2 separate regions of the Homo sapiens genome follow, and region 1 is linked to region 2. A link means that fine-mapping ties the variant in region 2 to the expression of a gene that starts in the linked region. Tissue or cell type: whole blood. Region 2 holds a variant in brackets; the other region holds the start of a gene. All regions are shown on one strand. Distances are between the middles of the regions.

Region 1 (2,835 bases), 54 kb after region 2:
TGACTTTCCCAGAGTCACACAGCCAGGAGATGCCAAGCCGAGATTTGAACTCACATCTATCTGAGTCAAAATTCTCTGCTTTCCTTTTTGATCGTTTAAGCCTCTTCTCTTCCACCATACCATTCTCCAGGGGTATTGAATTAGGTGACAGCTAAGCACTCTTACTATGTGCACTTTGCATGTATTACTTAAATCCTCGCAACAACCTGATGAGGTTGCTAATAACCTCCTCCATTTTACCGAGGCACAGAGAGTTTAACTTGCGTGAGGTCACACAGCTAACAATGGAAAAGCTGGGAGTCAGAGAACCTGGGCAGTGTGGCTCTAGACTCCCCACTTAAAGGATCAAAGAAACACTGTAAAAAGTAGAAATCACTTTAGGAATATAAATCAGAATTATTGTTGATTCTCACAGAATCCCTGCAAAGTCCTCTCCCCTCCCCACTGCTTCTGGCATTCCAAGACAGTACCCTAGTTTCAGATATGTCTACACAGGGACACTGGCCTCCTCAGTCCAGCTCCTTGAGGCTACTGCTTCTTGCCATAAATTTCTAGGACTGTTCATTGCCTTCTGAGGTCCTTTGAGCTGATGCTGATCTGAAAGCATTTTTTTGGATATGGTCCCATACCCAGGTGATGGGGATAGGATACCGATTTGCCTGCAGGATAAGAATTAGAGGTCATACAGACTGCTGAGACAGTTACAACCTAGAGGTCAAGGGCCTGACATGGGAGACAGGCCAGTTTTGATTTAAGCCCTTACTGCAAGGCTTGGGTGAATTGCCTTTCCATCTAGAAACCTCAGTTTCCTCATTTGTATGATAGTAATAATAACAGCACACATCTCAAGACTGGTGGGGGAATTTCATGGCATGAGTGAAGTCCATGTTTCTCAGCAGAAGTCTAGAGACATTGACAATTGTTATCATTATGCTATTTCTGATACAGTAGGATCCCTGACTACAGCTCCAAGCTCATCCCTATTTCCCCCCCTACTTCACTGGATTTTATCCATGTTGGCCTTGGATTCAACTCGGGGGCAGATCAGCCCTTTTCCTACCTCAGGGCCTTTACACCTGCTGTTCCCCCTGGTATGACTGCTTTTTCCCCAGCTTATTCAAAAAAGCTGGCGCTTTCTCACCCTTTTATATCTCAGTTCGTGTCACTGCTCAGTGAGGCCTTCCTTGACCACTCCAGCCTGCCTGCAATACATCCTCCTGTTTTATCGTATTCATATGTGTTACCAGTACCTGATATTACTAGCTGATTTGTTTCTTTTATCTCTCACATAATGTAAGTTTCAAGTAGACAGAGATTTTTATCGTTTTTTTTCTCTGTAGCATGCCCAGCGCCAACAACTGTGTCTGGCATTCAATAAATAAATGGTGAATTGAATGAATGAATGAATGAATGAATGAGGGTGTATACCAGGCCGAACCCCCAAGCCTTGCAGTCCCCACTCTTCTGCTGCAGTGGGCAACGAGATGAGTCAGACTTTGTAGATGGCCCCTTGGCCCCCGAGATGGGGGACGAGCTAGCGCGGAGCACTTGGGAGACATTCCCCGAAAGCCTGGGCGGTGGCCGCACTGGGAGAGGGTCTGTCGCCATTTGGCGATTACTCCATGCGGGCTGCTGTGGGCGCCGAGCGAGGGTCGGCGGCGAGCGCAAGCGCGCGGGTCTTTTGCGACGGTGCCCGGCGGCACTGGCCCCGCCTCCCGCGCGTGCGCCCCGCCTCCGCCCCCGCCGCTGCGCCCGCTCGGGGCCGCTCTGGCCCCCGCCCGCTTCATGTGGCCCGGCCCGCGACGGCCGGCGGCTGGGAGCGGCGAGGCGGCGGCGGCGGCGAGTGGCGGCCCGCGAGGCCCGGGAGGCGGTGGCCGAGGCCCAGGCGGTGGCGGCGGCGGCCCAGGAGGCGGCGGACGGGGAGCTGCGGGAGCAGGCCCGGCCTGGCTCTCTAGCGGCCGCCTGGCTGCAGCATGCGCGCCCGCCGGGGGCTGCTGCGGCTGCCGCGCCGCTCGCTGCTCGCCGCGCTCTTCTTCTTTTCTCTCTCGTCCTCGCTGCTGTACTTCGTCTATGTGGCGCCCGGCATAGGTAGGAAGGGGGCTTGGGACCGCGGCGGCTGCCGCTCTGGCCTTGAGGGACCCGGGGAATCCCCGCCCCTCCCTAAGGGGCCCCGGCCGGGAGGCGGCCCTGAGCCTGGTCCTCCGAAGACTCCGGAGTCCTGGCCCGGCTCTCGGGGACGCCAGGACATTCCTGCCCTCCGCACCCCAACAGGCGCCCGGGATCCCTCTCCCGCGCCAGCCTCCGGCCCACCCCGCCCCTCCTAACGCCACCCTCGCGAACCCGACTGTACCTTCACGCCCGCCCCTTGCTCCGGAACCCCCTTCCCGCTCTTGCCTCGCTGGAACTCCCACTTCCCGCTCCTCTGCTCGAGAACTCCCGCTTCCCCTTCCCTTCCCCGGGGTCTCCTCGAACCCCCATTCCCGGCATTCCCCGCACCCCAGTCCCCCGCGGCGCGCCCGCTCTTCGCCGAGCCCATGTGCCCGGGTCCCAGGCCGCCCCACCTTCTAGCTCCCATCCATCCTCCCCCACTCCCCATGACTCCATCGTTTCCTGCTCCCGTGAGCCCCCTCCCTCCCCTTTCTTCCTCTACTTCCCCTATTACATCCACCTCCAGGTCCTCCTCCCTAACTCACGTTCACCTCTTCAGTGGCCTGATCTCTCTGCCTGCCGGTGGCACCCCCCTTCCCCTTACAGAGGTCCACCCCCATTCAATCTCCTGCTAATCCCCTGAGCGTCCCATGCCTCTTCCCCATCTCCCCCCCCCCCACCTCGCGT
Region 2 (2,907 bases):
GTTAATGGACTCAGACGATGAATGGGCCAACCGATTCACTCCTTGAATGAACATGTTTGTTTGACCTGTGCAACATCAGTGCCTTCTTCTGATCATAGCACCCCAATTTTCCTTCAGACAATGAAGCAAAGGCTATAGGTGCCCTGGCCATTGTCCTAACCTTCAATGCACGCTGGCCCAAGCTTCGTCTCTTTGTCTGAGGACTTTCTCAGACCAGCAGGGACCATGCTCTTCCATGCTGGAAGTTCTGGGCAAAAACTCTCCTGCTAGCAACTGTCAGACAATGACTGACAGAAGTTGGTAGATGAATACCCCAGCTCCCTCAGCACTAAGATGGGATAACATTGAGGTCTATGTTTGCTATGGTTTGAATGTGTCCCCCCAAAAGCATGTATTGGAAACTTAATCCGCAATTCAAATGTGCTGGGGAGTGGAGCCTAATGGAGCCCTCATGAGAATGGATTAATGCCAGTTGTGAAAGGGCTTGCGGCTGCGAGTTCAATCTCTTGTTCACCCTCACCTTCTCTTACGTTTTCACCTTCCACCATGAATGATGCAGCATGAAGGCCCTTGCCAGATGACAGCACTATGCCCTTGGACTCCCCAGCCTCCATAACCATGGGCCAAATAAACTTCTATTGTTTTAAATTGCCCAGTCTGTGGTATTCTATCATAACAGCACAAAATAGACTAAAACAATGCTCTACACTGGCTGCCAGAGTTCCCTGATGGGATTGTGCTCCAGTTGTCCACAGTAGTAACTTGCTGGATAATACTTCCTGTTTCCGCAGGCTTCTCTTCTCTGTCTCATTCCCTCAATCCCCTAATGGTGCTTTCTGGGATCATCTCCCAAATAATCCACTTGCACCTCAAATCCTCATCTCAGAGTCTGCTTCTGAGGGAGCCCAAACAAAGGCATGAAACCTTTCCCATTCCCCAGTCTCAGTCTATATGGTTAAAGTGGGCCTGAACCCCATTCTAGGATGGGTCAGACTCAGGTCTGACCAATGACACCACCATACCTCTTTTAGGTACAGGGATGGTTCAGGGATGACCATTTGAACTCAAACAAGGCCAATAACAGTTTCATCCAGGATTTATGTTGAAACGATTGAGAAAGAGAAACATTTCTCCTGTGGTTTCTAAACTGTCAGGATGTTGGCTTGTGAGCCCACAATCCTCTGAGAATGAAGCCACATCAGAGACAGAGCAGTGAGATGAAAAAGAGAAACCACATCCCAATGGCTTTAGGTGCATCTCCGGTTCCACTGTGGTGTATAAATAATTTTTTCATTTATTAGGCTGGGGCATGAGAACTCCCCTGTTCCCCACAGGCAGGACTACTCCCTATTGTTTCACATGTTTACTTTCCCTGCCTGGCCCCTGAAGCCACTGGGGTTTGCAGTCTCTGTATTTGGCTGCAAACCAGTTTTTGCTTGAGTATTCTTCCTGAACACTGTTCAACCTGAATGCTTTCGCAACACGATGGGGCAAGGACAGTTACCGAAAGTTCAACGTGGTGGAATAACCTGATTGGGAAATCAACTGTCTTTCATTTT[C/T]TCAATTCCAGGGCCATTGGGAAAGAATGAAAGGCATTTCCCTACTCTTTGCCAAGAAGGTAGCTGGGGCTTTGTGATGGAAAGGACTGGGTGTCTTTTGTTTCCCATGCAGAATTAAGAGACCGTCCTTCCCCCAAAGTCTGGGTCAGAGAGTCTCAGACTATAAAGGCAGGACTACATACATTAGGGGTCCCGGAGGAGCTTGTTCCAAAGGTGGAGGTTCAGGTCCCAGCACAGGTGTCTCGGTCACCTGGGAATTTGTCTTTCAAACATGTTTTCAATTTGTCTTTCAAACATGTTCCTCCAAACACTGAGAAACTTGGGATTCTTTTATTTGTATGTATACTTCTTTTTTCTTTTTCTTTTTTTTTTTTTTTTTTGAGATGGAGTCTCGCTCCGTCACCAGGCTGGAGTGCAGTGGCGCGATCTCGGCTCACTGCAACCTCCGCTTCCCAGGTTCAAGCAATTCTCCTGCCTCAGCCTTCCGAGTGGCTGGGATTACAGGCATGTGCCACCACGCCCAGCTAATTTTTCTATTTTTAGTAGAGACGGGGTTTCACCATGTTGATCAGGCTGGTCTCGATCTCGTGACCTCGTGATCCACCCACCTCGGCCTCCCAAAGTGCTGGGATTACAGGCATGAGCCACCACGCCCGGCCCTTTTTTTTCTTTTTCAGATAGAGATGGGGTCCTGCTATGTTGCTGGTCTCAAACTCCTGAACTCAAACAATCCTCCCACCTTGGCCTCTCAAAGTGCTGGGATAACAGGCATGAGCCACTGTGCCCAGCCTAGGATTCTTTTATTTGTAAATGACAGAAGCCCCATTTGAAACTGATTTTTACGCAAAAAGCAATTTATTGGCTTAAGTAACTGAAAAGGACTGAAGTAAGTAACTGAAAAGTACTGGCTTCAGACCTGGCTGGATTCAGGAACTCAAATGAGGTTACCAGACATAGTCTCTCGCCATCTCTTGGCTTTGCTCTTCAGTGAGTTGGCTCCAGTCTTAGTATCTACTTGATAGCAAGCTGGCAACCAATAGCTCCAGGCCTGCATCCTGCCAGGTATGAGTGTGGTGGGAAAGGAGGTCACTTCCTGGAAATGCTGCTGAAGTTGCAGCATTCACTCTGATTGGACGAACTCAAGTTGTGGTTCATCTCTGAACCAATCATTGTCACTTGAAGAAGGCAATGCTTTGATTGTCCAGGCCTGGTCACATGCTTCTTGGTGGAACCAAGGGGTATAAACAGCCTCACCTGAACTGCAGGGAGTGGAAGCGAGGGAGGGGAGGTTTCCCAAAGAAATTGGTGTCCAGTATAGTCTAGTCTAGGCCATAAATCTTCCCCTCAT

Evidence for each region.
Region 1: it holds the start of B4GALT5, and the variant in region 2 is fine-mapped to the expression of B4GALT5 in whole blood (TOPMed, PIP above 0.99).

What each region holds. Positions count from the first base shown.
Region 1 is chr20:49,712,829-49,715,663 of GRCh38, reverse strand. B4GALT5 (beta-1,4-galactosyltransferase 5) reads left to right here and starts at 1,786. Exons shown (of 9, transcript NM_004776.4): 1 at 1,786-2,088. The coding sequence starts at 1,974. RefSeq lists silencers at 1,574-1,903, 2,194-2,313.
Region 2 is chr20:49,767,053-49,769,959 of GRCh38, reverse strand. All of the region lies in intron 2 of LOC105372652 (a long non-coding RNA gene), which reads left to right. Among named protein-coding and RNA genes, the nearest start is that of SLC9A8, 44 kb to the left of the region's middle. RefSeq lists enhancers at 1-586, 587-1,436. The variant C/T (reference allele first, on the strand shown) is at 1,560.